2 linked regions of the Homo sapiens genome follow. The protein of the gene in region 2 purifies or fractionates together with the protein of the main gene of each other region. This does not show direct contact. Each region holds a gene or a part of one and is shown on either strand. Other genes may lie near its edges.

Region 1 (16,771 bases), on a different chromosome or scaffold from region 2:
GCTGGCGCTAGGGAATTCGTGGGTTTCGATATTGGAAAGGAGGGAGGGGGACTTGGTGGATTTAACGGCGCAGGATCGAGGTCAGCGGGAAGGCGGATCTGAGACGTAGCTTCCAGGCTCCGACCCGGAAGGTGAGCGAGAATCGGGGCCTGAGGTACTAAAGCCGTTGCTCGGGAAACGGGAAGGAGGCGGAGCCGAGCCTAGCTTTGACTGACAGGGACCACAGCAGGGGCGGGACTCTGCTTCTGACTGTTCCCAGAAGGTGGTGGCTTACTTTTGACCGCGAGGGCCCGGGGGCGGGGCTTGAAATGGACAGGCTTCACTGGGAGGAAATGGGGCTTGGCTCTGACCTGTAGGGCATCAGACCCAGCAGGACTAGGCCAGAGTCTGGCATAGCCCCACAGTGCCAGAGTTGAAGCTGGTCCTGATTACCTGTCCTTAGGAAGCAGGTGTCATTGGTTCCGGTGATCCTGGAAAGGAGCAGAATATCCCTACTTGACCACCTCCCTATGGCCAGGCTAAACTTAAAACATGGGCAGGGAGAGAGGGAAGGTTGTGGTCTTTCGGGTCTTCATAATAGGCAGGATGGGGGCTCTGGAGCAAATGAGGCCAGGCAAGGGGAAGAAGATGGGAGGGAAGGTCAAAGACACCAATTCAGGCTTCCAGAGAAAGTTCCTAAAGTCTGAGGTCTGGGAGGAAGACAGGAGGCCCACCCAAGAATGGGGCAGAGCACTTTCTAGTGAAAAACGTGCTGCGTCAGCCCAAATGCTGACTTCTGAGGAAATTTCCAAGTATAAGGAGGCAGTTTGGAAGGTATGATTGGCTAAGGTTTGTCCCTAGAGAGCCTGTGATGTGCCCTATAGCTAACTCTTTTGACGTGTTTGAGAAACTGGTGTGGAATTAGGAAGGAAAGATGACAGAGAAGCCCACTAGTGCCCTGGCCAATCTTTTCTCTGACATGGTTTAGTGATACCTGTGGAGCACAGATAATTCTGTTATAAAATGTTCTTAAGGGTTTTGTTTTGCAGAGATTTCTGTACCTCACTCCCCACATGGGGTTATGTTACATAGATTTTCCAGTAAAAGTATTAGGTTGGTGCAAAAGTGATTGCAGTTTTTGGCAATACAAGGCCTCTTTTCAAGGGGATTGCCAAAGGCCAAAAGTGTAACTGCAGAAAGAGCTTTAAGAGTTGACTAAGGATTCCAGTGGGCTTGGTGATTGACAGGACAGGATGAAATTAAAACTGGTTATCTAGGCCGGGCACGGTGGCTCACGCCTGTAATCCCAGCACTTTGGGAGGCCAAGGCAGGTGGATGGCTTGAGCCCAGGAATTGGAGACCAGCCTGGGCAACTTGGCAAAAACCATCTCTATAAAAAAATACAGAAGATTAGCTGGGTGTGGTGGCACGTGCCTGTAGTCTCAGCTACTTGGTAGGCTGAGGCAGGCGGATCAATTGAACTGGTGAGGTTGAGGCTGCAGTGAGCTGTGATCCATGATGGTGCCACTGCACTCCAGCCTGGGTGATAGAGTGAAACCCTGTCGCAAAAAAAAAAAAAAAAAAAAAAAACAGAAAGAAAGAAAAGAAAAGGAAAAAAAAAAAGGTGAAAGCATCTACATTCGCCCTCTGTCTTAGTACATACTTGGGGGTGCCAGAGGGAGGACTGATTTTCTAATCTCAGAGCTCCCTCTGCTGGGGCATGAGGCTCCCTACACAGGGGGAGGAATGAGACAAGACCTGGACTTGGGGAGAGTCCAGGGAGAGACGGAAGGCTGCAAGCAGGGGACTCTTTCTGGGCCCTCAGGACGTGGAATCAAGTGAAGACCAAGAAGTAGACAAGTTTGCAGTTTATTGAGTAATGGCTGGCTTCACAGATGTTATCACTGGGGGCGGTTGATAGGGGGAACAGGAAAATGCTCTCAGAGGTTCCCACTGAAGCCCTTTCATCTGCCCTGCCCCACCCACCACTGAAGCCAGAGGTCATGGGAGTTGGGATCTAACTACACTCTGTGAACTTACCACCACCCATTCCATCCCCAAGCCCATATTTTATTTGGACTAGCCACTGATGCCCGGGCCCTTCCTCTTCCAGGGGGTGGGAGGGTGGAGGTGGGGACAGGACCAACCCTCAAGAAAGAAAAGAGGTTAAGGTGGGGGTTTTGCTGAATGTCTAAGAAATGTCAGTGGAACAGGCTGGGCACAGTGGCTCATGCTTGTAATCCCAGTGCTTTGGGAGGCCAAGGCAGGTGGATCACCTGAGGTCAGGAGTTCGAGACTAGCCTGGCCAACATGGTGAAACCCCCATCTCTGCTAAAAATACAAAACTAGCAAGATGTGGTAGCACACACCTGTAATTTCCACTACTCGGGAGACTGAGGCAAGAGAATCACTTGAACCCAGGAGGCAGAGGTTGCAGTGAGCCAAGATCGCACCATCGCACTCCAGCCTGGGCAAAATAGTGAAACTCCATTAAAAAAAAAAAAAAAAGTCAATGGAACACAAAATTCCCTGTCTTAACATTGTACATTCGGGGCCTAGCTGCCCTTGAGGATGTCCTAGTTACACCCTCTCTGATACCTGTGGAGTTTAAGCACCATTCCTACCGCTGTGTCCCTTGGGAGGGGGTGCAGTGGAAGCTCTTAAAGGGGAATGCTTGCTCTGCCTCTGTGGCTTTTTGTTTGGGAAAGGGAGTTGGGATTGGAGGATTTAGATTTGAGGTCATGATGTCAGAGCACACCAGGAACTCCCAAGGCTGTGCCTGAAGATGCCCACGCTGTCAAGTAGGGTGGTGGGGGAGACAGCGAGGGCAGTACAGGACACAGGCACTCCTTTGTCTGGTAGAGAGGAGGAGGGGAAATGGAGCTATTCCAGGATACAAGGGATGGCACTGAGGGATGCATAAGTCCCCTGCCTCCCTTGTCTCAACATGTTCTCCTCTGCCAGCCCAGTCAGCTTGGGGAGCTAGGTATCAGAAACCTGAAGGATTCAGCCCGCTTTGTCCTACTAGTGTCTATAAGTCTCTGTCCTGAGATCCTGGGGCTCCTCCTATTTCTAGAAGGGATGAGGTGCCATCAAAAATAACTTGGCTGGTGTAACAGTTTAGAGAAGGAAGTCACACCTGTAGCCTGGCTGGCAGGCAGGTGGACATGAGGCTGAGAAGGGAAGCCAGATGTCAGAACATACTAGGCTAGCATGCCTGCTTCTAGCTTTCAGGACCCAATGTACACATACACATGTGTATCATGTATGTATATGCATGGACACTCAAGCACAGGAGGGGTTATGTGCTCTGATCTTTGAAACCAGAGAAGGGAGGAAAAGCCTTATGGAGGTCCCTCCCCCACCCTAATAGGTTGCTACCCTCAATTGCCATCTGCCCACCAAGGCCCCTGCCCAGTGCTAGGCAGATAGCCAAGTGGTAGGGGTGACATGACTCCACTAAAGCAGCAGCCCAAGGAAGTGAGGGAGGGGACAGAGGCTGACCCTCCTCAAAGCCCCTTGTTGTAGTAGACCACTTCAACGCTGGGGTTTTGCTCATGGATCTGAGCTCTCAGCTCTGGTTCCAGGTTGCTTATGTGTATGGAGCTGCAATAGAACAGCACAGGCCAGTTAACGTCCCCTGAATCCAACCCCACTCAGGCCCAGGGATTGCCATCCCACCTCCTCCCAGGCTGAAAAATCCTCTCCTTCTACTGCCAGAAGGACTGGCTCACTGTCATTCCCCCACTCCCAGAATCAGTGGAGTGCCTGCCAGGCCTCCTCCTGAACACCCTGGAAGACCCTAGGTCAGCTGGTCCAGAGATGCAGAGTCCAATCCAGAGTCCCCCACCCAGCCCAGGGACAGCACTTACCTCTTCTGGGGGAATAGGGCACAGCACAGGGGGGTTGCAAATACCAGGCTGGGGGAGACAAGTGTTGGAAAGGTTTGTAAAGCTTTGGCCTTAGGGTGTTCCCTCCCTGCACCCCACCCCATCCTTGGAGATAGGCCCTAGGGGTGGAGATTGATAAAAGCTGAAAGGACCTTTTAGGAATAGTAAACCCAACCTGGACATCAGGTTCTGAGGAAAGAGAGCCCCACAACCAGTAAGTGGCAGAATCAGGAATTAAATGGGCATGAATCTCCTGGATGGCACCAAAAGGTACATTTCCATGGTTTCCTCTTATAGATGAAGACTGGAACCCCCTCACTAGGATCTTGACCTTCAAGGACAGGGACCACCCCGTAACACACAAAGTAGACCCTATAGTTGTTCCAAACACACACCCACTGAATGTATGAATGGATGATGTCTATAAACATCTTAAAGACAATCCATACCCACCCACATCCACCATGGACAAGGCACTCCCACACACCCCAGCTAACTCCTTGCACACTTACCAGAAGCCCACCAGTCCCACCTGCAGGGGTGCCCCCAGCCAGGGGCGGCGCTGTGGAGAGACAGAAAGACAATGGAACGGCTTGTGTCCCCTGCCTCACTGTCACCCCATTTCACCCACCATAGCTCTATCCCATCAGCCTTGCCTTGGAGCCCTTAGACCTGTGGCCGTTTTCTTTCTCCCAAGGCAATGACAGGGCTGGGACCTCCAGATCACGCCCTTCCACTCCAGCCAGGCCTGTCTGCTGATCACCCTCCCCGGCATCCCATGACCTCTCACCTCTCAGAATTGGTTGCCATGGCACTCCCTGGCCCTTTTTTTTCTTCCCTCACTTCCTCCAGGAGCTGATTTCTTCAGGAAACCTCCTGTGAACCTCCACTTACCTCTTCCCATCCCAGTGGCATGAATCTGACCCTTTCCAAGCACATCTCTTCCTCGGCACTCTTCTCAATTTGCTCTGGCCACAGGGACCACCAACCTGTTCCTCAAATGTGCAAGCCCCTCCTACTGCAGTGCCCTTGCACTGACTGTTTTCTGTACCCCAAACACTCTTCTCTGCGTTATTTGGCTCTCTCCTCATCCTTTGCGGCATTAAAGACCCCTTCTCTGATCATCCTATCTAAACAGCTCTCCCCCATGAATCTCAATTACACTACCCCCATTGCTTTCCTACAAAGCACATATTACACTTTCTAAGAATGTATTTATTGGGTGCCTCCTTGTTTATTGGTTTCTGCATCAGACTATAAACTTCATGAGGACAGGGGCCATAACCATTGTGTTCAGTGCCATCTCCTCAGCCCTAAAACATGCCTGGTGCATGGCACTCAATACATTTGTGAATAAATGATTCTGTGAATGAGCCAGAGCTTGTTCCTGTGCTTTGCTTTCGTGTCCTGTTCATGTCTGTGTGTGCGTGTTCACCCGTGTGTACCTCTCAGTATGGAGGCACTAGGGGGTAAAAGAATGAGCATGAGATCAAGCATGACTATGACAGTCCCCTTCTGTGTGTCAGAAGCCACTGGAGTAACACTGATGAAGTTGGTTTCCTTCCTTTGTCCTCTCCTCCTGCCCCTGCAGAGTTCCTTCACCCCAGCCCAGTTCATTCTTGCTGAATGAACGAAGGTGGAGGAGGCGGTGCAGGGGTCAGGAGAAGGGCTGGCAAGTCTTAGAGAATCAGGCGAGGCTGGAGAGAGAGTTGGGGCCTGGTCACTTCTCCCAGCCATCGCCCATTCCAGGACAAGAGAGGTACAGTCGCCTACCTTCAGGAAGTCTTTCTTCTCCAGAGTGTCCATGATCAGTGGTGGGATGGCTGTGGGGAGAGCAGGGCCAAGAAGGAGAACATTAGTAGTGGAGTTAAAGTCAGGAACTGTGAAGGGTGACCCCCCTCAAAGCTCCTCCCTCTCTCCCCAGAGTCCTCCAAAGTCCCTGAGAACTGCACCTGCTTCTCTCAGAGTCTCCTATGCCCCACCCAGCCACTCCCGCCTTACCCATGGCAGGAATCGCCATGCAGATTCTTGAAATCACCACCTGGAAGATTCCCTGCTTGGCTGCAGTCACCGAGTAGCCAAGCCTCTGACCTGCCTCATCAGCCACCGGGATGCCCACCTGCAGCTCTCTGCAAGGGAGGGGGGTTGGGGTCAGATCACAGGCCCCGGATCCCACCTGCAATGCCCGAATGAGCAGCGGCTCCTCAGGGTCCCCTCACACACCCCAGGCTCAAAGGCTGGTTCTCCCACCTGAGGATCCCAGGGTCAGACTGAGCCAGGGCCCAGCAGCTCATGTCTGGGGAGGGAGAGGGATGTCCCCATTCTGAGGTGGTCTGCGTGGATGGACAGTGTGCTACATTCTGGGCATGCACATGCCAGGAGCCGGGGTCACTCACCTCTGCCTCATCAGGGGGATGTTGATGCAGTTGGCAGCTGCCACTGCTGCAAAGGGCACAAATCTGCCGACCAAGGGGGGCAGGTGCTGGGGAGGAAGGGTGTTGTTCAGTGGCCCTAAGGGCCATGGGGTGGTGAGGGACTCTGGGGAGATATAGGGGGCATATAGGTCAGAACTGGAGGTGTGATGAGGAAGAAGGAGGCAGATAGAGGATGAATGGGGTGGTCAGGGGAGTGAGGGGCCTTTACCTTGGTGAGGGATTTGAGTCCCAGGGCCGTGGCCACAGCTCCAGTGGTGGCACTCACATAGGCTGTCCCCAGCTGCCTGTGGGTGGAAAAGCCAGGTCACGGGGAGAGGTGACAAGTCCAGCAGGTGGCCCTTTCCTTTAGGGATATGCCAAGTCCTCAATACATGAGGCATAAAAGGGGAAGCTCCTTGCAGAAGAAGCCTTCCCTCCATCTCCGGCGTAAACTTGTCTAGAAGCCCCAGTAGCACCCTGTGAAGAGGGGTGGGTCCCCCACAGCATACATAAGAGGACCTCATGCCTTCAGTTAGGCAGGGTAATTCGGGGTGGGGCAGGCTGAGGAGAGGGCGCTGAGCACTGGCTGCATGGTCCACAGGGAACCGGAGAGAAAGGAGAGGGCACTGCAGGCTGGGAGGAGAGGGTCAGATGGGACAGTGCAGCTGCTGCTGGGGGCTGGCTCTCACCTCACAGTGATGGGAGTGTCACCACTGCGGTTGGAGTAGTTAACAATGGCATTGAAGGACTGATTCACCCACTGCCAGAACACCACGGTTGGGGTCTTCCTGAGGGAACAAAGACACTCACTTCTGCCCCGTCTACAGTGGCCCTCATCTTTAGACCCCTGTAATGAAACCAAAGGTTATTCCCCAAGCCTAAGAAGGGACCCAGTTAATGGCCCTAGAACCTGTTCTGGTAACCCCTATGTACCCCCACCCCCATTTATACAAACACACCTACTGTCTCTGGGGTGAGAGACCTCCTGAGGCTGAATTCTGAGGAATGGAAGCGATTCTGACACAATCTTTCACTCACCCAGTTGGCCCAGACAAGAAGCGCACCTAGTCAAGCTATGCTCTAGCTTAGGGCACTGAAGAAGGGGACGTGGGACAAGACCTGCCTGTAGAATGTGAGCATGCAGCCAGTGATGGTCATGTTCATGGGCACCTGGGCTGACATGCGGCCAATCAGGACCACCTTCTCCCCTGTGTCCGGATGGAAGGCGGAGTCATACACATACTTGGCCCTCCACAGCTGGTCCTCGGTGATCCCTGGGGTCACCACGCCGGCCCTGCAGAAGTTGGCAAGGAGCAGACAGGCTATGCCAGGGGGCAGATCTGCCCTCACAGGCCCCACCTGCCCAGCTCAGGGTAACTCTGGACAGAGAACCAGGAACTTCAGCCCCCAGTCTCAGCATAAGGAAGCTCCTTATCTTTGGGAGAGGGCCAAAGTTTCCCAGAAGTGGAGGCTCCTATTTCTATTTCCCTTATAGCCACACAAAGAGGGGTACCCTTCTGTTTCTGCCAAAATGCTGGGTCAGGGATGATGGTGGTTTCCAGTGGGTCAAAAATGGCTGCAAGCATTGCAAGAGTTTTTCCTCCCAAAGATAAGGGGATTTCCCTCCTATCTTCCTGGGACTCCACTTTGAGCACCTCTATCCTTGCAGAGGGTGACCCCGCAATGGGATAGATCCCTGTAGAGGTTTGTGATGCATAGAGCAGCCCCTCCCATAAATATCAATGCCATCTTCTCAACCCAAATGCCCTAAAATCCTTTGGGTTAAAGCTCTGTGATGCCAACAGACGGGGCTAGAGAGTGAGGGGATTGAGGGACAGGGTCACTGTCAAGCTTGAGGAGGCAGGTACAAAACATATTATATTAATCACAGAAAATGAGATCCTGGCACACAGGGTCAGATTGAGGGGTGGTCACCTGTAGTTCTGCACGATGTTCCGAGAAGCTTCCAGCTGTGCCCCGGACAGCAGCAGATTTCGAGGATCAGTAACAGTGAAAAAGTGCCGGGCTCTGCCCAGGAAAGTACTTTGGTCCCAGCGAGGTTCCTGGATGTTGATGTCTAAAGGCAATTCACCCATTTTCTGCAGGACAGAGATAAGGGTCAGAGCGGGAGTCCAAGGGTCCAAGGGCTCCAGCTAGGGGAAATCTTTGGTGCCCCTGCCCTGGCCCCTGAGCTTATCATCAGTCCCTTCAAGAGCTCAAGGTGACTAGATGTAGGGAAAAGAAAGAGAGATCAGACTGTTACTGTGTCTATGTAGAAAGGAAAGACATAAGAGACTCCATTTTGAAAAAGACCTGTACTTTAAACAATTGCTTTGCTGAGATGTTGTTAATTTGTAGCTTTGCCCCAGCCACTTTGCCCCAGCACTTTGACCCAATCTGGAGCTCACAAAAACATGTGTTGTATAAAATCAAGGTTTAAGGGATCTAGGGATGTGCAGGACGTGCCTTGTTAACAAAATGTTTACAAGCAGTATACTTGGTAAAAGTCATTGCCATTCTCTAGTCTCAATAAACCAGGGGCACAATTAACTGCGGAAAGCCACAGGGACTTCTGCCCTTGAAAGCGGGGTATCGTCCAAGGTTTCTTCCCATGCATAGTCTGAAATATGGCCTCGTGGGATGAGAAAGACCTGACCGTCCCCCAGCTTGACACCCATAAAGGGTCTGTGCTGAGGTGGATTAGTAAAAGAGGAAAGCCTCTTGCAGTTGAGATAGAGGAAGGCCACTGTCTCCTGCTTGCCCCTGGGAACTGAATGTCTCCATATAAAACGCGATTGCACATTTGTTCAATTCTGAGATAGGAGAAAAACCGCCCTATGGTGGGAGGTGAGATATGTTTGCAGTAATGCTGCCTTGTTATTCTTTACTCCGCTGAGATGTTTGGGTGGAGAGAAACATAAATCTGGCTTACATGCACATCTAGGCATAGTACCTTCCCTTGAACCTAATTATGACATAGATTCTTTTGCTCACATGTTTTTTGCTGACCTTCTCCTTATTATCAACCTGCTCTACTACTACATTCCTTTTTGCTGAAATAATGAAAATAATAATCAATAAAAACTGAGGGAACTCAGAGACCGGTGCCGGTGCAGATCCTTGGTATGCTGAACGCCGGTCCCCTGGGCCCACTGTTGTTTCTCTATACTTTGTCTCTGTGTCTTATTTCTTTTCTCAGTCTCTTGTCCCACCCTACTAGAAATACCCACAGGTGTGGAGGGGCAGGCCACCCCTTCAACTAGGTAGGTAAGCAAGGGTGTGGGGAGGAGCTGTTTCCTGGGCAATGTCCCAGCCCAGGGACCTGCAGCCACTGGAGGAGGGGGAAGGGAAGACCAGAAACAGGAAAACAGATCTCCTTGTGCTCTATCCTGGTACAGATTTTCATGAGTGAGGATTTACATATATGTGGTTGACACATAAGCAGCAACAAACATCCCAGCCACGTGTGCTACAGATGCACAAGAATATATAATATATATATTACACACCCATGCTCAGGTGAGCTTTAGGCCCCAGCTGCACTGAGACCTGGATACAAACCCCCAAGGCTGTTTTGGAAAATGGCACAAGACATCCCACACTCCAGTCCCTGATTGGAGGAGAGCAAGGCCTTACTGGCCACCCAGGGCTTATCTGTTCCAGATCTCAATCAGGGGACTCTGATGTCAGCCATGTGTGTGCATGTGGGCACGCACAAGTCCTCTCTACAGACCCATTTTTCTCCAACTCACACTGAATGACCCCAGGCTCTCCCTGGTCCCTGGCCAGGCAGGGCTGGCACAGACACTCATCCACCTCTCTCTGGGCCACTTGCCTCCGGATAAGAGCAGGATTCAGTGGCTGCTCCCTCCACCCAGCACAGAGAGGAAAGCCTGGTGCAGCCATCTGGCTGAGTTGGGCAGAATCCTACAGAATGACTAATCCTCTCCAGCCACACTTCCTCCCGCAGAGGCAGAGACGCCCTCCCCTCACACTCACATACCCACACACAAAGACACTATCATGCACACCCTGCCCAGACATACAGACAGAGTGGAGGTGTCCTGTATACACCGGCCTTCAAACACCTTTACAGGCGCACACTGTGCCCATCTGCAGACACTTGAATGTGTGACTACACACAGCCCCACCCTGACATTCCTCCCCCCAACCTCCCTTGTGCCCTGTGGACTTGGACCTCCACAGAGCCGAGGACATTGACTGCACCAGGACAGACAGTTTCAAGGCAGGCCTCCTTCTCTGACCCCCATTCCAGAACCCCGCCCGCCGGGGAGAGCGAGCACTTACGCTTTCCATCGCTCTCTGAAGCTCTCAGAACCGCCTTCCTCTCTGCCTCCGCTGTCGCCGCCGGGCCCTCCCAGCCATCACGCGGGACGTCACGCGTGACGCCGACCAGCAGGGAGGGGCAGGAGCTTCCCGGCCGCGCCCACCCGGTGGGCACGGGGATTGGCAGAACCTGAGGGCGGTGGGTGTCATTCGAGGCGATGCCCCCAGCCTGGGCCACCTGGACCAGGCCCTAAGCTGCTTCCCAGAGCCAATCCCACCTCGGGGATCAGTTCTGGCCCCCTCCCCAGCCAAAGGGAGGAGGGGCTGGAGCCGCGGGCGCTGCTCCCTTGGTTTACAGTCCCCTGGCGGGCCTCAGCAGACCCCCAGCCCTGCAGCAAGCGGTCTAGGTGCCCAGAGAGAAAGCCCCGGGCGCAGGTGGGCGGTGTGGAGGGGCGGTCCTCTGCTGGCGCGCCGGGAGGGACTCGGGTTACCGCCTGGCTTGTTTACTTGATGGCTGCCTTGGCAATGGCCTTTGGCTTGCTTGTCCCCCTGGGCTCCTACCCCAGTATCCACAAGCTCCTCTTGTAGCAGCGCGGCATTCGCATCACTTCACAGCCCCGTTCCTGTCGTGCCTGTGCCTCTTCTATGTCCCCAGCCCTCTCCCTGCTCCCCCTCTGTAACCCCTAGCTCCACTGTGTCCCTGGTCTCCTTACGCTCCCAACCCCTAGCCCTGCACCCCAGACCGTAGCCCCACCCCTGAGATGTGGAGGGGCAGACGACCCCAGGAACCTCGCGGTCTGCATCCGAGCAAGTGCATCAGAAGGATTCTTAGGATTCTTCCGGTCCTGGGACCAGCTGCCCCACCCTGCGACCATTCCAGAACTGGGTAGCCAGAGACGCCTTCTGACAGAGGAGGAGGATGCAAGTGAAGAAGGCACCCCCTCCGCCACGCACATACTCACAACTCACCCAGCCACCACACAGAGCACGCCTGCAGCAAACTCAGGCTCACGTCCCGCTCTGCCCCGTGACGTCCCTCCACGGAGGCCTCAAGGGTGCCCAGGGAGGGGTGGCAATTCCAGGAGCCCCGGTAGCTGGCTCGGCTCAGAGAAGAGGTGGTTCGAGCCGGAGGGGAACAAGCCAGACCCAAGCCCTAAATTTGCGGAATGAGCTAGGGCGTCAGAACCAGAACTGGGGTGGGTAAAGAACTCCGCTGCCCGGGACCAGGTAACGCTCGGCTGTCCCTGGCGCCTAAGGGAGGTGCCGGAATAGAATGACTGGCGGCCCTACCAGCCAATGGGAGCCCGGGGCGGTGCAGGCCAGCCCAATTCCCGCAGCCTCCGCGCAGCGTGGGTGGGGTTTGCCGGCTGCGGCAGTAGCTCTCGCCTGCGGGTGGTTTGACAAGGCTGGCGGCGCCACACCAGCGACCAGGTGAGGCCGACCAGGCACAAAGGGGTGGGGGGCCTGGAGGGCCGAGTTGATGTTGGGGTGCTTCATTCTAGGTCCCAGAGCTTCTCTGAGGGAACTGGCCCTGGGTTTTGCGCGGGATGTCGTGGGACCCCTCTCCAGCAGATCCTCCCCAAAGCTTGGGAGAGGTTCATGCAGCCTCTTTAGACCCGGAGCCGCAGCCTGGAGCCCGCGGGTGTCTGGGGGTCTTCCTGGGCCTCAGCTGTCTAAGGTCCTGAAGCCCTATCCTCGAGGCCCAGCCCGCCCCACGCAGCCCCCGCCCCACCCCGGGCCACCTCCATGCCCGCATATGCATGAGAGAGGTGATGCCATGAGCTGTCCTGACCTCTCTTTTGTCTCACACCTCTCTAAGCCCCAGGGCCCGCAGTAATCCCAACTCCACTCTCAACCTCTACTGAGGACTGGGGACGGGAGTAGATGACTCAGCCCCGAGCAGGAATGAGGGGTGAAAGGTTCCCACCTGCCTTGTATAAAGTCAGCGAGAGTCCAAGATGGTGCCTGGACGGGGCAGTTCTCTGGCCTAGGGTGAGACAGGAGGGGGGCCTAAGGCATGGGAGGGCAGGATGCTTAAACCAGGGGGAGGGGTGGAAGTTTTAGGGGGCAGCAGGGGAAACATTTACACCCCTCCCTCATCCCTGCTCTCCCTGCCCAGGCCTGGAGCTCACACTTCTGAGAGGCATCGCAAGCGAGGGCCTTCACGTTACTGAGACCCCAGCCCCGCACAGAGGCTCATGGAGCTCGAAGCACGCAGGGCTGGCCTCTCCAGAGCTAGCAGATTCCTTCTGGACCTGTAGGGTGCCGCCCTAGCCCAGCCGCCATGGCGCAGGGTTTCGCAGTGGGCTTCGACCCACTGGGCCTAGGAGACCTGAGCTCCGGCTCTCTGAGCTCCCTCTCCTCCCGAGGCCACCTAGGCAGCGACTCAGGCTCCACCGCAACGCGATACCTGCTAAGGAAGCAACAACGGCTGCTGAACGGGCCCCCCCGCGGAATCCGAGCCTCATCGCCCATGGGACGCGTCATCCTCATCAACTCCCCCATCGAAGGTAGGGGCGGGACCCAGCCACTGGCCTGGGTTGGGGAGGGTGGGGGTAGGGGACAATGGGAACTCAGCAGGAGGAGGCAGAGCCAGTATGATTGGGGGAATTCAAGAGATGGGAGTCACAGGGAGGTGGCAGGCCGCCTGGGAACCCATACACTCTTCCTCACCTGCCCTTGGCCTCTCCTCCAGGCCAATCCTGCAGGGGTCCAGGGTCGTAGAAGGGTCAGAGGAGGGAAAGAAGGCCATGGCAGCAGGGACAGGCATGCGTGTGGTATGCTAGCCCCTGGTGGACAAGGCAGGGGATTGAACTGGCCTCTCTCCCATGGGCTCTGCCCTTCTCCAGATCCATTGTGTGTACTTCTGGGGGATGGGGCAGGATAAAGAAGGACATCCTCCATCAACCAGTCCATTGTGTGACAAGCTCTGTGCTGGGCTGCGAGGAGTCAGTGCCCAAGCGGGTAGACAGAATTCAGGGCTTCCGTGCTGAAGGAGGGGAATGAAGGCAGCACAGCAAATGTTCAGAAGAGGAGGGTTGAGGGTGGAGAGGGAGCTCCATCAGGGAAGGGGAGACCTAAGCTTATGTAGTTGCTTAATGCCGCTTCATGGAGCACAATTCTATACCAGCCCTGGGGAGGTGTTACAAGGGACCTAGAGAGAAATCAGGCTCCCTCTTCACCTTCCAGGAATCTACAGTGTAGCAGGACAGAGCAATAAGAACAGCTGGTGGCAGGGGTGAGCTGTCACCAACAAAGGCTGGAAGTGAAAAGCATGGAGCATGGTAGGTGGGCACTTAGGAGCCAGCCTGGCTGTAGTGACAGATGTGAGGTGACTAACAGCTGATGAGCAAGACAGGACCTAGAATGCCAGGTGCGGAGCCAGGCCCCCTGAGTCTGAGCTTTCTGTGAGCAGGACCAGATAAATATCTCCAGCTCCTCTCCTCTTTCTTAGCCAGCAGAGCTCCCCTGGCTGGATCCCAGACTGGACTGTTCAGGCCCTGCTCCTCCCCCTCTGACCCAGCAGGGCATCTCTCTTCCCCTCCCTAGGCCACTGGAGCAGGGTGGGGCATGTTGCTCAGGGAGCAGGCTTTCCTCCACCAGTGCCCTGGCACGCTCACCCCTGTCATACACCAGTCTATGCTTCACCCTCTGGTGAGCACAGGGCACTGCTGAGGGTCACCACGGTCATTCTGGTGAGGGAGCAGAAGTCCCCAGAGGAGTTAGGAGACATTGGGGAAAAGGGAAGCAGGCACCGCATAACTGTCTTTATTAGTCCCATTCTATTAAAAGAACTATGCTATACTCCCTCTGATACACTCTTTCTGTTTCTCTCTCTCTCCCCTTCCCTTTGCCCATGTATGATGCAAGCGCTGTTTATAACGTCTTTTTTTTTTTTTTTAAGAGGGAAAGGGTCTTGCTCTGTCGCTCACCCAAGCTGAAGTGCAGTGGTGTGATCATAGCTCACTGCAGCCTCAAACTTCTGGGCTCAAGTGATCCTCCAGCCTCAGCCTCCTGAGTAGCCAGAACTATAGGCATGCAACACCAAGCCCAGCTAATTTTATTTTATTTTATTTTTTGTAGAGACAGAGTTTCACCATGTTGCCCAGGCTGGTCTTGAACTCCTAGGCTCAAGTGATCTTCCGGCCTCAGCCTCCCAAAGTGCTGGGATTATAGGCATGAGCCACCATGCCTGGCCTATACTGTCCCTCTAAAGATCCTCTTCCAGGGGTTTCATGATTGCTTTCTCCCTCTGCCTCATGCTAGCGCCACTGTGCAGCCAAGGAAGCAGCATCTCCTAGCAGTGAGGGACTGAGGAGTTGCTCTGACCACTTGGCTTCTCCTCTGACTGGACTGGGACCCTCTGAGCTCAGAATTCTCCCCTCTGCCTGAGAACAGGTATCTCCCAAGTCACCGCAGCCTGGAACCCTGCCCCATGTTATTATTTAGATCACTCCCGGGGAGTAAAGTAACTGATAAGGAATAAACGGTGACATTGCCACCTACATCGGCCCCATGAGATCCCACCAGCTCCTTAAATTCAACTGGTCCCAGAGAAAATGCATTACCTTTAATCCAGGAAAGCATTACCCTTAATGCATTTCTCCTCACTCTCCTAGTTTGACCATCCATCCATCCATTTATTCTTTCACTTATTCAAAAAAAATACCTATCAAATACCAAGCACTGTCCAACATATTGGAGATATACTAGAAGAGTATTACGAAGTCCCCACCATGATTGAACTTATGGTCTAGTGAAAAGAGACAGATAAATCACAAATAAGCGAACGACGACAAAGGATGGGAAGAGTCAGAATGTGATCATCTGATGACATGATAGAATGGTGCTTCTCAAACCTCAGATGCCTCAGAATTGCCGGGAAGGCTCATTCAGGGATAGATTGCAGGGCTCAGTCCCAGAGCTTCTGGTCCAGTGGGTCTGTGGTAAAGCGAAGGAATTCCCGTTTTTAGCAAGTTCTCAGATGACACTGACGCTGCTGATCCAGGATTACGCTTTGAGAAGCCCTACAAGAGGTACTCACTGGGAGGAAGGGAGGACACTCCAGGAAGCCTTCTCCAAGAAAGTGGTGTCTGAGCCAGGAGGGGAACGAGGAAGAGGAGCTGACCTTCTAAAGGCCTGGGCAGGAGCACTGCAGGCAGAGGGAACACTGGAAGGGCTTGGCCTCCATGAGGAACAGGAAGATCAGTGTGGCCAGAGCTCAGTGAGGGAGGGGAGGGTGGAGGGGAGGGCGGAGGGGTGGGCAGAGGAAAGCCCAGGCAGGGCCTTATAGGGCATGGTGAGGAGACTGGAGTTCTAGAAGCAGGAACAGGTGTTGAAGTTTTTAATCAGGGAAAAGACATGAGCTAATGTAAAAGCTGACTCTGGGTACTGTATAGAGAATAGCTAAAGGCGGCAAGAGTGGAAGCAAGGATAGTGCCGGGGCTGCAGTGGAGCACCTGGGGGAGAGGCTGGGGCAGTGGAGGTAGAGAAGATTCCATCCTTGCAGGGCTCAGGCTCCTGGAAAATCTCAGATTTCACATTCCCTGACCTAGGGCCCTAGGGAGGCCCCAGTGAGGCCCTGAGGAGAGAGGGTTGGTAGCAAGGGAGTAAAAGGCTCCTTGGCTAAGGCTGAAAGTGTCCTGAGATCTGTGTAATCTAATCAGCTGGGAAAGCCCTGGCCCCCCACATCTGTCCTGCACCACCCCTCCCCCCAGGCTGCCCTCGGGGATTTCTTTCTGAGCTGCCCTGGCCGTGCCCTGTAACCTGACTTCTCTTAGATCAAATTGAAGTGTGTGTGTGTGTGTGTGTGTGTGTGTGTGTGTGTGTGTGTGTGTGTGATTTCTCCCTGTCAAACACCTCTAGAGTAACCCTTACCTATGAAGAAATCTCAGCTTCTCACCTGGGACCCAACTTACCCCTCCAGCCTTCTTGCTTTTCTGTAACTGGAAGGCCTCCTCAAGGGCCCACAGCTGAGCCTCCCTGGCTCTTTCCCCCTCATCAGTGCCCCCCCTTACCCCCCACCCATCAAAATCCCACCCATCAGAGTCCTTACAGAAACCTTACCTGGCCTGGGCAAGGTGGCTCACACCTGTAATCCCAGCATTTTGGGAGGCCGAGGCAGGTGGATCACTTGAGGTTAGGAGTTCGAGACCAGCCTGGCCAACATGGTGAAACCCTGTCTCTACTAAAAGTACAAAA
Region 2 (13,941 bases):
AACTGTAAAGACAAGTTTAGTTTTATAAACCTGTCTTTAAAACTTGTCTTTAAACTTAAATTCTAAATATATATGGAGAAATAATATGGAATAATATTTCCATATGTCTTTCAATCTAGAAATAAAACTTAAATTATAGCCACCTTCAGGGAAACACCAATGAACAAAAAAAAAGTCTTTCAGCATCTCCTTATTGATGTTCATGATTTTAAAAAAGGGAATTAGAAAGTTGAAAGTATGTTTAAAATTACTTTTAGGTTAAATAATTGGCTTAAAGATGTGTTGATTTGAAAACCAGATTGTCACAATGCCTAAGAGAAATAAACTTTTGCAATGAAAGCTGATGTGTTATATTCACTTGTCCAGTTGAATTTTCTCATTCAGTGATTACACGTGGTGTCCAGTGATTGAATTTTGAGGGTCTCCTCATGGCACTTTGTGCAAGAAACATGGTTATGAAAGCTGCCACGTTATTGATGTACTCTTTAATAACGTCATCAGTATTGGTAGAATTTTATGCAATAAATGAATGGGCTATTACTGGATACATACTCAGAGAAATATAAATCTTTCTACCATAAAGACACATGCACACGAATGTTCATTGCAGCACTATTCACAATAGCAAAAACATGGAATCAATCTAAATGTGAGTCAACAATAGATTGGATAGAGAAAATGTGATACATAGATACCATGGAATACTAAGCAGCCTTAAAAAAGAAGATTATGTCTTTTGTGGGAACATCGGTAGAACTGGAGACCATTATCCTTAGCAAACATGGGAACAGAAAACCAAATACTGCATGTCCTCACTTATAAGTGGGAGCTAAATGATGAGAATTCATAAACACAAAGAAGGGAATAACAGACACTGGAGTCTACTTGAGGGCGGAAGGTAGGAGGAGGGAGAGGAGCCGAAAAAAACAATATTAGGCACTGGGCTTAATACCTGGGTGATGAAATAATCTGTACAACAAACCTCCACGACATGAGTTTACCTATATAAAAAGCCTTTAACATGTACCCCCGAAAGCTAAAATAAAAGTTAAGAAATAATGGATGGGCTTGAGACAGGAAAGTGTGGAGATGAATGTTCGCTTAGAATAAATTGACTATTGGACTCGGGTCCTAGCTGAGCAATAGATACAAAATCTGGTGAGATCCATTCAGTCAATTGAAAATAAGGCAGAGCAAAGGAAGCCCCAGGGATGGGTGGACTTGGTTACAGCCTGTTTGGAGCTGATGGCTGGCATGCCCTTCCCTAAGAAGGTGCAGTGGAGGCCTGTAGCCAGAAAGGCCACACCGGTATTCTGAGCAGGAATAAGTTTCATGACTTGAAGAAGCTTCTTACTCATTATACAGGGGAGTAAAGAGACGATATATGCTTGGGCAGGAGATAAGAACGGTATGAAACCAAGAAGAGAAGACAGACTTGTCAGAAGCTAGAAAGAAGAGGACCTGCTACAGAGCCCGGATTCAGGAGATTTTTGGAAGGCACCTTCCAAAATCCCCTTCTTTGCTAGACTCTGTCTTGGCTCCGTGTCCCTGTACTTTCATACGAACACTAAAAAATGAGGCAAATGTAGCAAAAGGTAGTGAATTGCTTTGTAAATTCTGGGAAGAGGACCTGAGACTAACGTAGAGAGAAAATGCACTTCAGCCAGTAACATGAATTATAACATTTAAAACTACTTATTTTTATTTATATCAGAGTAACAAATACTTATGAAGTCCTTTGAAGTTCAGCGCACAAATTTCTCGTGTGGGGCGGTGGGTGTGGCCATGTTCTTGCTCTTCCTTCTTTACACATTTGAGTTGTGCCTTCTGTTCTTAAAGAGATTTTCCTTTGTTCAAAGGATTTATTCCTACCATTTCACAAATCCGAAAATAATTGAGGAAACAGGTTACATCATTCCAATTTTGCCTTGGGTTTGAAGAGTCTCTCATGGTGGCACAGTCCTCCAGGGTAGCTATGTTGTTGGGCTCCCCTACATCCCAGAAGCTGAAAAAGAATGACATAGGAGACTTAAAATCCCAGCAAAAAGAGGTAAAGTAACCTAATATACTAGGCAAATTACATTTGTGTTATTTAACCTCACAACAATTTTGCGAGGTAGGTATTATAATGTCCATTTTATTGAAGAAGAAAAGGAACCTCAGGAAGCTAAACTAGTTGTCGAAGTCACAGTTTGTGAGTACTGAAGCTGAACCGGATCTTTCTGACTTTCTATTCTGTCCTGTTCCTTTGTTCCTTTTCTATTCTGTCCTGTTCCTTAGCTATAGAATGAGAAGTTATGGGGAAGATTGATATTCTGATAGATTTGTTTTCTTCACACTCATACCTCATATCGGCTTAGCTCTCTTTATTCTGCACAGAGTGTGTATTAACTTAGGTGCATCCTGCAGTGATGTTACAGTGTGGTAGTGAAGCAGCATTTCTAACATGTCAGAGTATCTCTGTTGTACTCTTAGAACTGCTCATTAGCTAAGTCACTTAACTCTGCTGAGTTTTAGTTTCCTCAAATGCTAAATAAAGATTAATAATACTGATACATTCCAAGAAAGTGTAATTTAGGTAAAATGAAATAATAAATGAGAAAAAAAATTAAAAATGCTATGCTCTATCAGGAAGAATACCTAATGGATGCTGGACTTAATACCCGGGTCATGTTATGATTTCTGCAGCAAACCAAACCACCACGGCACACGTTTACCTATGTAACCTGCACATCCTGCACATGTACCCTGGAACTTAAAATAAAAGTTGAAGAAAAGAAAAAAGAAAAAACTCACTCCCTAACAAATCATGAGAATCAACATATATAGCAAAATATTTTATATATCAATTAACCAATCTAACAAAAAAAGCATATCCACAATAAAAAATGCTATGTTCTAATGACGTGAGGCTATTATTAAGGAGAAAAGAGACATTATCAAGAGATTCTCATTTTTCACTGCATAAGAACCTGCTGTCTTTCTCAACTTACTATTTTTTTCCTCATTTCCTTCAGTTTTGGGGAATAAGACTCTTAATTCCACCTCTCGTCTCTTTTGCATTCTCAGTGAATGATTCTTCAGTTCATTTTCATTTATTATTTCCCCTTTATTCTTGAGACAATTCCAGGAAAGGAGAGAAGTGGGTGCTTGTACTTCTCCTTCATCTTTTCTACCTTAGCTCTTCTCTTTCCTGCATTTAATACCACCACCAATAATGGACCTGATCTATTGCAGGTAACAGAAGGAGGTTTCAAGAACTCCTCTCAATAGGAGGGTAATTACCTCAGAGACTTTGTCAAAGGTGTGCCGTCCACCCATTGCCACTGACCCTCGACAACCTGGTCTGACAGTCCAATAAAAAACTCTCTCATTTTAGGTTTCTTGTAGGAAAGGAATTCCTATGGAAGATACAAAATAAAAGGAGATCAGTTATTTTAGTTTTGAATAAACGTTGCTAGTAATTATTATTCAAAGAGGTAAGAATCTGGATGAGATCCTAGCACTTTGGGAGGCCGAGGCGGGTGGATCACCTGAGGTCAGGAGTTCAAGACCAGCTTGACCAACATGGCGAAACCCTGTCTCTACTAAAAGTATAAAAAAATTTGCCAGGCATGGTGGCGGGTGCCTGTAGTCCCAGCTACTTGGGAGGCTGAGGCAGGAGAATCGCTTGAACCTGGGAGGCAGAGGTTGCAGTGAGCCGAGATTGCGCCACTGCACTCCAGCCTGGGCAACACAGCAAGACTCCATCTCAAAAAGTAAAAAAGAATCTGGATGAGAAATAACAGATAAGTGAAACTGTAAGATCATGAGGATTATCTACTGATTTTTTTTTGTGGTAAAATATACATAACATAAAATTAAACTGAAAAAATAACCTTCAACAGAAAAGGAGATCCTCAATAATTCTTTCAAAGTTTATCTACTATTATTGGTGGCCAAATTTATTGAATATATCTAGCGCAAAATATTATTAATCACAGCTTAAAGAAAACGGACAATATTTGCTTCTCTTCTTTCATATAATATGTTCATAAACATAACGATTCGTCTAAAATTAACACTTCCAACCCTCTTTTTCCCCTTGCCTAACTAAAGGAACTCCACATGGAAATTCCCTTTTTCTTAGGTTCTTCTAGGAAGGAAAATAAATTAAGGTAGGCAGTGACTTTACCGAAATAGTAAGAACAGCATGCATTTTAGTACATTCATTAACAATAGTCATTGGGGGTCAAGCACTGTGCATATGTATGAAAAGAGAGGTGGACCATGTCGGGAATGTTACATTGGCATCGGAGGACTCCAGCTACCTGCTCCTCCTGTGAGTTGATAACCACCAGGTGAGCCCCCATGGCTGAGCAGTTCTTTAAACTTAACGCCCAGGAAATGGTGTCAGTAGAAAAGAAGTAGCAGCTGGATTGAAAATATTCCCAGTTCAATGGACAACAATTCTTGACTGAACCTAGGATGAGAGATGTTTCAGTGAGTGTCCCAGGTGAACCGAATAAGAAAACCCAAAGCTTCATCTGGCCCCATGGAGTCCTCATTTAAGTCAGAAGCCTTGGAATCACTTGTTCATACCCTACATCTTAGTATCTAAGACTTTAGATAATTCCAATGTCAAGAAACATAAACAGAATGTTTTTGGTCTTTTGAACGTAATTCTCATTCTCTGGATGTCAGTGCCAGGAAATGCAACTATATATGCAAACTATCTTAGTTATGCTATTGATATAGAACCTTATTATCTGTTCTTAGACTACTAATGTCAGAGAAATTTATGCATTTTATTTGGGTGACCCCCAAAGAGCCATCTCTTATGTTACCTAAACAATGTATCCTCAATCAAATCTCCATACTGTAGTATATAGATGGGTTAGATGTGGGCGGCAAGCCACCCAGGCGCTGAGGCAAGAGACAGAGGACACGAGCTGTTCCAGTATAATAAAATATAAAACAAGAATAGTTATACCAGATATAGATCTTAGATATGATTATATATGAATATCATTAATCATTAGTTTGTAGCAATTACTTTTTATTCCAATATTATAATAATCCTCGCTCTATAATCATAGCCAAGGAAAAACCAGGCCGTACAGAGCTACGAGCTGAGGGGACATAGTGAGGTGTGACCAGAAGACAAGAGTGCGAGCCTTCCGTTATGCCCGGACAGGGCCACCAGAGGGCTCCTTGGTCTAGCGGTGACGCCAGCGTCTGGGAAGACGCCCGTGGCCAGGCAGACAGACTGTGGTCTAGCGGTAGCGTTAAGTGTCAAGGGAAAACACCCGCTACTTAGCAGACAGGAAAAGGGAGTCTTCCTTTCCCTGGGGGAGTTTAGAGAAGACTCTGCTCCTCCACCTCTTGTGGAGGGCCTGACATTAGTCAGGCTTGCCCGCAGTTATCCGGAGGCCTAACCGTCTCCCTGTGATGCTGTGCTTCAGTGGTCACACTCCTAGTCTGCCTTCATGTTCCATCCTGTACACCTGGCTCTGCCTTCTAGATAGCAGTAGTAAATTAGCGAAAGTACTAATAGTCCCTGATATGCAGAAATAATAGCGTAAGCTGTCTTTCTCTCTGTCTCCTCTCCCTCTCTGCCTCGGCTGCCAGGCAGGGAAGGTCCCCCTGTCCAGTGGACACGTGACCCACATGACCTTACCTATCATTGGAGATGACTCACACTCTCTACCCTGCCCCTTTCACCTTGTATCCAATAAATAACAGCGCAGCCAGACATTCGGAGCCACTACCGGTCTCCGCGCATTGGTGGTAGTGGTCCCTTGGGCCCAGCTGCCTTTTCTTTTATCTCTTTGTCTTGTGTCTTTATTTCTACATGCTCTCGTCTCTGGACACAGGGAGAGACCCACCAACCCTGTGGGGCTGGTCCCTACAGTTAGATTTCTTAGAATTACAGAACTTTTGCCTTTGAGGTCTATTATAAATAATTCTTCTAACTTCTCTCAATTTAATGGTGAGAAAATTATAGCTCAGAGAAGGAAGTCACTTTTTTAGTGTCATGTAGCATTTTGCTAGGACTTGCAACAGGATGACATAGAAGAGCATAGAGAGTATATTTGTGAGATATTTATAAATTCTCTACTCCATACGTTTTTTCTCCATCTCATTTTGGAAGTAGGTGAATGAAAAAAAAGGTACACTCCTGGGAATAATACCTTCCACTTCCAGATTTACTGTTCAGACATACCCCTCAAATTTATTCTAAAAGTTTACTATAATGTCCCCAAGACTTTCTGCCCCAATGCTAATTGCATCACCAAATTTCTAGGATTTTACATTTTGCTTTTGAAAAATAAGACCTAATCCAGCTATATCTCACCTGTCCCAAAGTCAATCTAGAAGCCAGAAAATGTTGCTTTGTAAATTTTGATGTTCACCTTTGGGACTATTATACCTGATCCATAATTGTAGCAGGAGAGCTCTGTGAAATTCTCAGGTAGCTGAAACTTTTTCTCATCACAGGTTTGAAAGATGCGAAATGTCACTGTAAAAGAAAGGGCATAATGTTTGTTAGTCTTATTTCGGTTAAAAATGTCAGTTCCCTCAGTTTTGTATTTATAACAAAAGTGCCAATAATTATCATGTTTTTTCTTACAATCTGCTTTTTCTTACGACCCAGAGAAAATAGATATGTTTGCACTACCTCTTATGCCAAGTCCAACTCTCTCTACCCTTCCTTCCAAAAGTAATTAGTCATATCTCTGGTGCCGACCAGTAGTTCAAGCTCTAAGGCAGACTCTCCTAGAGAAGGTTACACTAATGATAGAGGCTGAAAGAGGAGGATTCAGGACTGCCAAGGAAGTGAAAAATGTCTATCATGAAAAGTAAGTCACAGGTGATTAAAATTCAGAAACAGTTCCCTGCTTGTTGAGGTTTCTGGTTTGAGAAATAACCTAGAGATTAATAGGGAAAAAAAAAAGGGTGAAATAGAAAGACCCTTTGAGGGCAAAGAGAGTCTACAGGCAGCATGGAAGAGTTTTCTCCTAATATGCACCAGGAAGAATTAAATTGAATTTGACCTTCAGAACCCACCAACACATCTGGTGATGAAACAGGCACTGAGAAATAGGATGGGGATCCCAGCAACAGTCCATAAGAACATTTGGGAAGAGAAGCATCCTCTCTCTGTAGAAAGAAAGACACAAACATGATCAATCTTCCCTAAGCAAGGTACAAAAGAGATAGAAGAGATTCTTATTCATCCTTACTTATTTCCTTCTACTTCCATTGTTTGTACTGAGTAATTCCCAAATTTCAGCATGCTTCAGAATCACTTGGAGGGTTTATGGAAACACAGATTGCTGACCCTTACCCCCAGAGTTAGCAACTCAGTAGAGTTTGTATGGAACCAACAAGTTCCCAGGGGCTACTGCTGCTGCTGGTCTGAGGACCACACGTTTAGCACCCCTGGAGTAAGACTCTGACTCATGAACTCAGATATACAATTTTTCCTTTCTAAGTCTCTCAGTTAAATTTTTTTCAGTATTTTCTAAGGCCCCCCTTCTTTCTTTTTCTTTCTTTTCCCTTTTCTCGTCTTTGCTTTTCTTGTCCTTCTCCTGATCTTTTTTTTTTTTCTGTGTCTCACTTTTCAAGCGCTTTGTAAATTAGGTAAAATGTTAACAGTCATCTAATAGTTCCTCTCTTCCTCCCATTAAACATTTTACAGACAAAGAGAGTTCCAGAGAAGTGAAGTGACTTGCCAAAAGGGACACAATGTATTGCAGAAAGGGTGGAAACTGATAGCTCTCCCTTAGCTAGAGGCCAGCAGGCTTTCTGGTATAAGAAATAGTCTTTAAATCTCTCTCTCTCTCTTCCTCTGTCCCCCCACTTTTTTTTTTAACTTCAGTGAATACTTTTCTATTGTCCTGTCTTTCACCATATTTATCACTTGTTCCAAAAAGAGATCTATGGAAGGAAAGGAAGAGTTGCAGATTTTACCTGTGCATTGTGTTTCAGATGATTTAGATGAATTCATTTTTTCTCTCTCTTTGGTTTTTTGTTTCTCTCTCTCTCTTTTTCTCTCCCTCCCTCTCTTTCTTTCTCCTCAGGAGTGTTTTGTTGGTAAGATTCAGGGAGAATGAATCTTGAAAGATAAACACTTTGTCTTTTAGGAAGTTCAGCTCCGATAGATGTAGAATATTAACTTGTTCTGTGGCTACGCATTAAGTCAGGATTTCCTTTCTTGCATAAGGAGGACAAGGAAGTTTATTGGACAGCATGTCAGTTCTCTTCACTCCATGTAACAACAAAATGAGGAAATTATGAAATGGTAAGCATCAACACAAATAGGCTAGCCATGGGGAAACAGGAGAGTTTTTTTTTTAAATGTTGTTTCGTTTCGTTGGACCAAATGTCTCTAGTTTCTTCAAGGCATAACTCATCCCCCAGTTTTTCCTTGACAATATGGAGCTCACCTCTGCACTCTGAATTTCACTTTGGATCTGTACCATCCACACATTTGGTAACTGAAAAGAAGACTTAGACAACATAGCACAAAGCTGGGCATATAGTGTATGTATTTAGGACATGGCAACCTGAATTTTTTCATCTTTTTTTTTTTTTTTTTTTTTGAGACAGAGTCTCGCTCTGTCGTCCAGGCTGGAGTGCAGTGGCATGATCTCCGCTCACTGCAAGCTCCGCCTCCCGGGTTCAAGCCATTCTCCTGCCTCAGCCTCCCGAGTAGCTGGGACTACAGGCGCTCGCCACCACGCCTGGCTAATTTTTTGTATTTTTAGCAGAGACGGGGTTTCACTGTGGTCGTCAGGATGGTTTCAATTTCCTGACCTCGTGATCCGCCCGCCTCAGCCTCCCAAAGTCCTGAGATTACAGGCGTGAGCCACCGCGCCCGTCCTCTTTTTCATCTTTTATGGTTTTTCTTTCTTCTTCATTTGCAGCTCTTGAATATTCTAATGTTGTGGATTTATGTCCCTCTTATCTTATGCTGACTACTAGGCTGCTACTACTAGGCTGACTACTAGAGTCCCCCTCAGCAGGACAGCCTCATGTGATTAGACCACTTTGAAACTCAGCTTAGTTTTTCACAACATAACGCAGCTTCTGAAGTCTCAGAGACCCAGCAGGCAGTTTAATTCTCCTGTTCTCAATTATTTGGGGATTTTAGTTCTATGTTACAGCCTACAGTAGGAGAAATGTATTTGAAGGTCAGAAAAAGCAATTTCAATTAGATATTAGAATTTAATGGTTCTCTGGGCCGGGAGCAGTGGCTCATGCCTGTAATTCCAACACTTTGGGAGGCCAAGGTGGGTGGATCATTTGAGGTCAGGAGTTTGAGACCAGCCTGGCCAACATGGTGAAACCCCACCTCTACTAAAAATACAAAAATTAGCCAAGTGTGGTGGCACGCATCTGTAATTCCAGATACTTGAGAGGCTGAGACAGGAGAATAGCTTGATCCTGGGAGGCAGAGGTTGCAGTGAGCCAAAATTGCACCACTGCACTCCAGCCTGGGCGATAGAGTGAGACTCTGTCTCAAAAAAAAAAAAAAAAAAGAATTAATGCTTCTCTGGAAGAATAGTTAGATATGTGCCTTCTCCTTACTTAAAGATACTTAAGAATAAGATCACACTGGTCTCAGTTTATTTAAGTTCACGAGTCAGGAGGCATAAGTATGATGTACATGACTTGGTAAATCCCCACATCCAGTGACTCACGAATTTTCCATGTGTGAGAAAATATTCTTGTTCTCAAAGGGACTTTTTATTATTTCAAGGTACTGGTCAATTTTCTCTGCATTCTCTGTTTTATAGTAATACAATTTTAAAAATATCTTTAAATTATATATGTGTATATTATAGAATATACCCATATTTAATATGTGTATTCTCAGCAAATAGCTTTTGATCAGTAAAAAAAGAGAAACTATCTAGTGGATGAGCTATATGAATTATAAAATGATGAACATAATTACCACAGTCCATCTTTTATTAATTACAATCAACCAGCAACCATCAATATTACTAAACAATTGTATGTTAATTTTTATCAATATACAATTAAACAGAAATCAATAAATTAATATTTTTTCCAGCCAAAATGTTTTTATATCTTTTGTTTCATTGATTTTCCCCAAATTATACGAGTAATATGTTTTATGATTAATACTATGAAAAGCATGTGACAAGTAAAAGCCTTCTTAACTATCCTTAGTGCATTCTTCTAAAGTTGACCATGCTTAATGATTTCTTTTTTGGGGGGGGGGATTAATTTTTATTTATTTTTATTTATCTTTTATTACACTTTAAGCTTTAGGGTACGTGTGCACAACGTGCAGGTTTGTTACATATGCATACATGTGCCATGCTGGTGTGCTGCACCCATTAACTCGTCATTTAGCATTAGGTATATCTCCTAATGCTATCCCTCCCCCCTCCCCCCACCCCACAACAGTCCCCAGAGTGTGATGTTCCCCTTCCTGGGTCCAAGTGTTCTCATTGTTCAATTCCCACCTATGAGTGAGAACATGCGGTGTTTGGTTTTTTGTTCTTGCGATAGTTTGCTGAGAATGATGGTTTCCAGCTTCATCCATGTGCCTACAAAGGACATGAACTCATCATTTTTTATGGCTGCATAGTATTCCATGGTGTATATGTGCCACATTTTCTTAATCCAGTCTATCATTGATGGACATTTGGGTTGGTTCCAAGTCTTTGCTATTGTGAATAGTGCCACAATAAACATACGTGTGCATGTGTCTTTATAGCAGCATGATTTATAATCCTTTGGGTATATACCCAGTAATGGGGTGGCTGGGTCAAATTGTATTTCTAGTTCTAGATCCCTGAGGAATCTCCACACTGACTTCCACAATGGTTGAACTAGTTTACGTCCCACCAACAGTGTAAAAGCATTCCTATTTCTCCACATCCTCTCCAGCACCTGTTGTTCAGCAATAGATTCTTTGATTTCCCTTTTTAAATATCATCCAGGAACTTATCGTCTAAGTCCCTTTTCTAAACTATATTGCCTGTCAATATTTCAGGCAACTGAAAAAGAATCAGTAAAAGCTGTAAACATCTATGCCATACGAGTATTGTTAGTATCTACTTTTCTTTGATGCCAAGAGAAACATCACTCAATTTTAGCCTTGGGGCAGATTTATTTTTTGTCTTTTCATCTAACATGCAATCACTAACTGATCCCAGGGCTGCTGCTTCCCAGGTTGACGGCCAGCCCTTTACCCTTGAACTGCCATCTATCTGTAAGCCACACTGCTGCCTTGACAGCTGACCAGAGAGAGGGGCCTATTCAGCTATAGGTTTAGCCAACTCCTCAGGGGAACCAAATTTATGGTGACCTGTCAGCCACCTGACTGTGCATGCATTGGGTAACCCCATTTCACATTCTTGAGTATCTCCTTTCTATTCAAGGAGGGAATTCTGTGCATTTCATTTCTTGTTGGAATGATGATATGATATAAATAGGATGTTATGAGTTTTCAAATAATTTTATGTCCTTCAGTACAAAAAGCAGTTTCAACTAAAACCCAGTAACAAGCTAGCAATTCCTTTTAAATGGTGCTACTTCAAGCTGCAGCCAGGTAGCTTTTTATTACAAAAATCCCACAGGCAGCCACTAGGTGGCAGTAACAGGCTTTTGCCAGCGGCTCCAGTCAGCATGGCTTGACTGTGTGCTGCAGAAACTTCTTAAATCGTCTGTGTTTGGGACTCGTGGGGCCCCACAGGGCTTTACAAGGGCTTTTTAATTTCCAAAAACATAAAACAAAAAAAAATACAAATGTATTATCTTGCTCAAAACTTCAGTCAAATTTAGCTTTTTTCTTGATAACTTTATTAACAGGGGTATGCCATTTCTCCACCACATTAACAAGCCAACATCTTTGCACCTCTTGCTTTCATTTTGGAGCTGGCAGAGACAATTACTTATTTTTGGTTGTCTGAGGGATGCCTCTCATCTCCCCTGTCCAGGTGATGCCTAAGAATTTTACCATTTCCCCTGGACCCTGTTCTTTAGTTGGGTTAATCAGCCTCATATGATTAACAAGCATTATACAGTAATTCAATCTTTGCTAGATCTTCAAATTGAGTTAATATGACATTAATGCAGTTAATAATATTACTTTCTAATTGATCACATCTAAGTATCTTCTTGCCAAGTGCCGTGATAAAAAGGAGAATTTAAATAACCTTATGGGAACATAGCAAATGTATACTGGAATCCATCCCACATGAATGTGTATTAGCTTTGATTTTCTCCCTAAATAGAGATAGAAAATAAGGTTTTAGGCAAATAGATAACAGAATATTACTGTCTTTTAGCTTTTAGCAAAGCTTGAATTGTGATGCCATCTTGGGTACAGCTGATGCTGTTGGAAGCATGATTTTATTCAGTCCTCTCTAACATACAATTCATCTCCAGGATCCACCAAGTTTTCTTCTAGGCCATACTGGATTATTAAACAGGGAATCTGTGGGCATTAACATGACTGTGTCTAACTTATTCTTAATTAAAGCTGAAATTCTTCCTCCAGCCTATTCTTAATTAAAACTGAACCCCCCATCCTATATTGTTTTAAAATAATCATTTGAATGTGCTTAAGCAATTCTAAGGGTTCCCATCTAGCAGGTCCAATTAAAAACAGGATGAAGAGAAGATTGGCAGTCTTTTCCAATGGTTTGGGTAAGGAAAGAGTCCGCCATTCAGACATCATGCTCATTTTTAAAATATATTCTAGTTGGACTGAGACAAAATCATACATTAATTTCATTCATAAATACCGTACTAATATGAGGGACTTGAGAATCCACAGGTTTTGGTATTCAAAGCAGGGTCCTCAAACCAATCCCCCACTGATACCAAGGGATGATTGTATCTACTTCTGGCCATACTATCACCTGCAAGTTTTCTGTATTTAATTATATTTCCCTTTCACTTTTCATTGGCAGGTTTAGGTGTGACAGTAGATTAAGTACCAATGTCCAGCAATCCAATAATGTTTCTTCATCATCCCTTACCATTTTACTCATACTGATGCGTATGGCCTTATGTCTTCTGCTGGGGATTGTGCCAAGAGACATTGGACCACATGTCACTCACCTTCCTCATAATCCTCTCCTTTACTTTGTACTGTTTTAGTCTGCACTGACTCTGAAGAGATTATGTATGTATATATATACATACATACATATATATACACACATATACATATATAGAGAGAGCATGTGTGTGTGTGTGTAATCATCAGATTTTAAAATTCAGGTTAGGACAAATTGAACAAGTCTGTTGTGTAACCTCTTAAAGTTTGAGGAGCTGGTGGGACAGCCGAACAACCTAATCTCTCACAGTGATCCATTAACATTTTAGTACTTCCCCCATCTATCTCCTCCCCTTTCACGCCACTTAAAAAATATTAGAAATAACTTTTAAACTACATTTTAAATTTTGGAATAGTTTCAGATACATAGAAAAATTGTCACTATAATACACTGTACAGAAAGTCCCTATATGGCCCACATCCAGTTTCCCAATTATTAACATCTTACTTTAATATGGCACATTTGTCATAATTAGTGAACTAGCATTGGTGTATTATTATTAACTAAAGTCCTTTATTCAAATTTTCTTAGTTTTTGCCTATTTTTTTTTCTGTTCCAGGATTCCATCCAGGATCCTTGGCTATGACAGTTTCCCAGACTTTCCTTGTTTCTGATGACTTTGACAGTTTTCAGGAGTACTGGTTGGGTCAGGTATTTTGTAAAATGTTCCTCGATTGGGGTTGGTCTGATGGTTTTTCATGATTAGGCTAGGTTTATGGGTTTGGGAAGGAAGACCACAAAAGCAAGTGCCATTCTCATCGCAGAGTATCAAGGGTACCTACTATCAATACGACATCATGGTTAATGTGAACCTTGAACACTCGACTGAGGCAGTATCTGTCAGGTTTCC

The links.
Region 1: the proteins of CLEC4E (region 2) and SFXN3 purify together in Homo sapiens (affinity purification with mass spectrometry; 2 studies listed by BioGRID and IntAct, with this or other methods). This does not show direct contact.

The regions. Positions count from the first base shown.
Region 1 is NC_000010.11:101,026,303-101,043,073, reverse strand, and holds SFXN3 (sideroflexin-3), read right to left. Parts: upstream 11,841-16,771; 5' UTR 11,540-11,840; exon of another isoform or gene 11,132-11,539; intron 10,761-11,131; 5' UTR 10,601-10,760; coding exon of another isoform or gene 10,592-10,600; intron 8,383-10,591; coding exon of another isoform or gene 8,380-8,382; coding exon 8,219-8,379; intron 7,578-8,218; coding exon 7,407-7,577; intron 7,131-7,406; coding exon of another isoform or gene 7,072-7,130; coding exon 6,973-7,071; intron 6,589-6,972; coding exon 6,513-6,588; intron 6,408-6,512; exon of another isoform or gene 6,352-6,407; coding exon 6,266-6,351; intron 5,999-6,265; coding exon 5,871-5,998; intron 5,693-5,870; coding exon 5,643-5,692; coding exon of another isoform or gene 5,301-5,642; exon of another isoform or gene 4,704-5,300; intron 4,432-4,703; coding exon 4,382-4,431; intron 3,900-4,381; coding exon 3,852-3,899; intron 3,586-3,851; coding exon 3,489-3,585; 3' UTR 1,833-3,488; downstream 1-1,832. Other genes in the region: PDZD7 (PDZ domain-containing protein 7), read left to right, coding at 12,855-13,080. UniProt on the Homo sapiens protein: Mitochondrial serine transporter that mediates transport of serine into mitochondria, an important step of the one-carbon metabolism pathway.
Region 2 is NC_000012.12:8,532,805-8,546,745, forward strand, and holds CLEC4E (C-type lectin domain family 4 member E), read right to left. Parts: upstream 8,102-13,941; 5' UTR 7,994-8,101; coding exon 7,957-7,993; intron 7,144-7,956; coding exon 7,051-7,143; intron 6,503-7,050; coding exon 6,413-6,502; coding exon of another isoform or gene 6,396-6,412; intron 4,463-6,395; coding exon 4,311-4,462; intron 3,402-4,310; coding exon 3,286-3,401; intron 2,006-3,285; coding exon 1,834-2,005; 3' UTR 501-1,833; downstream 1-500.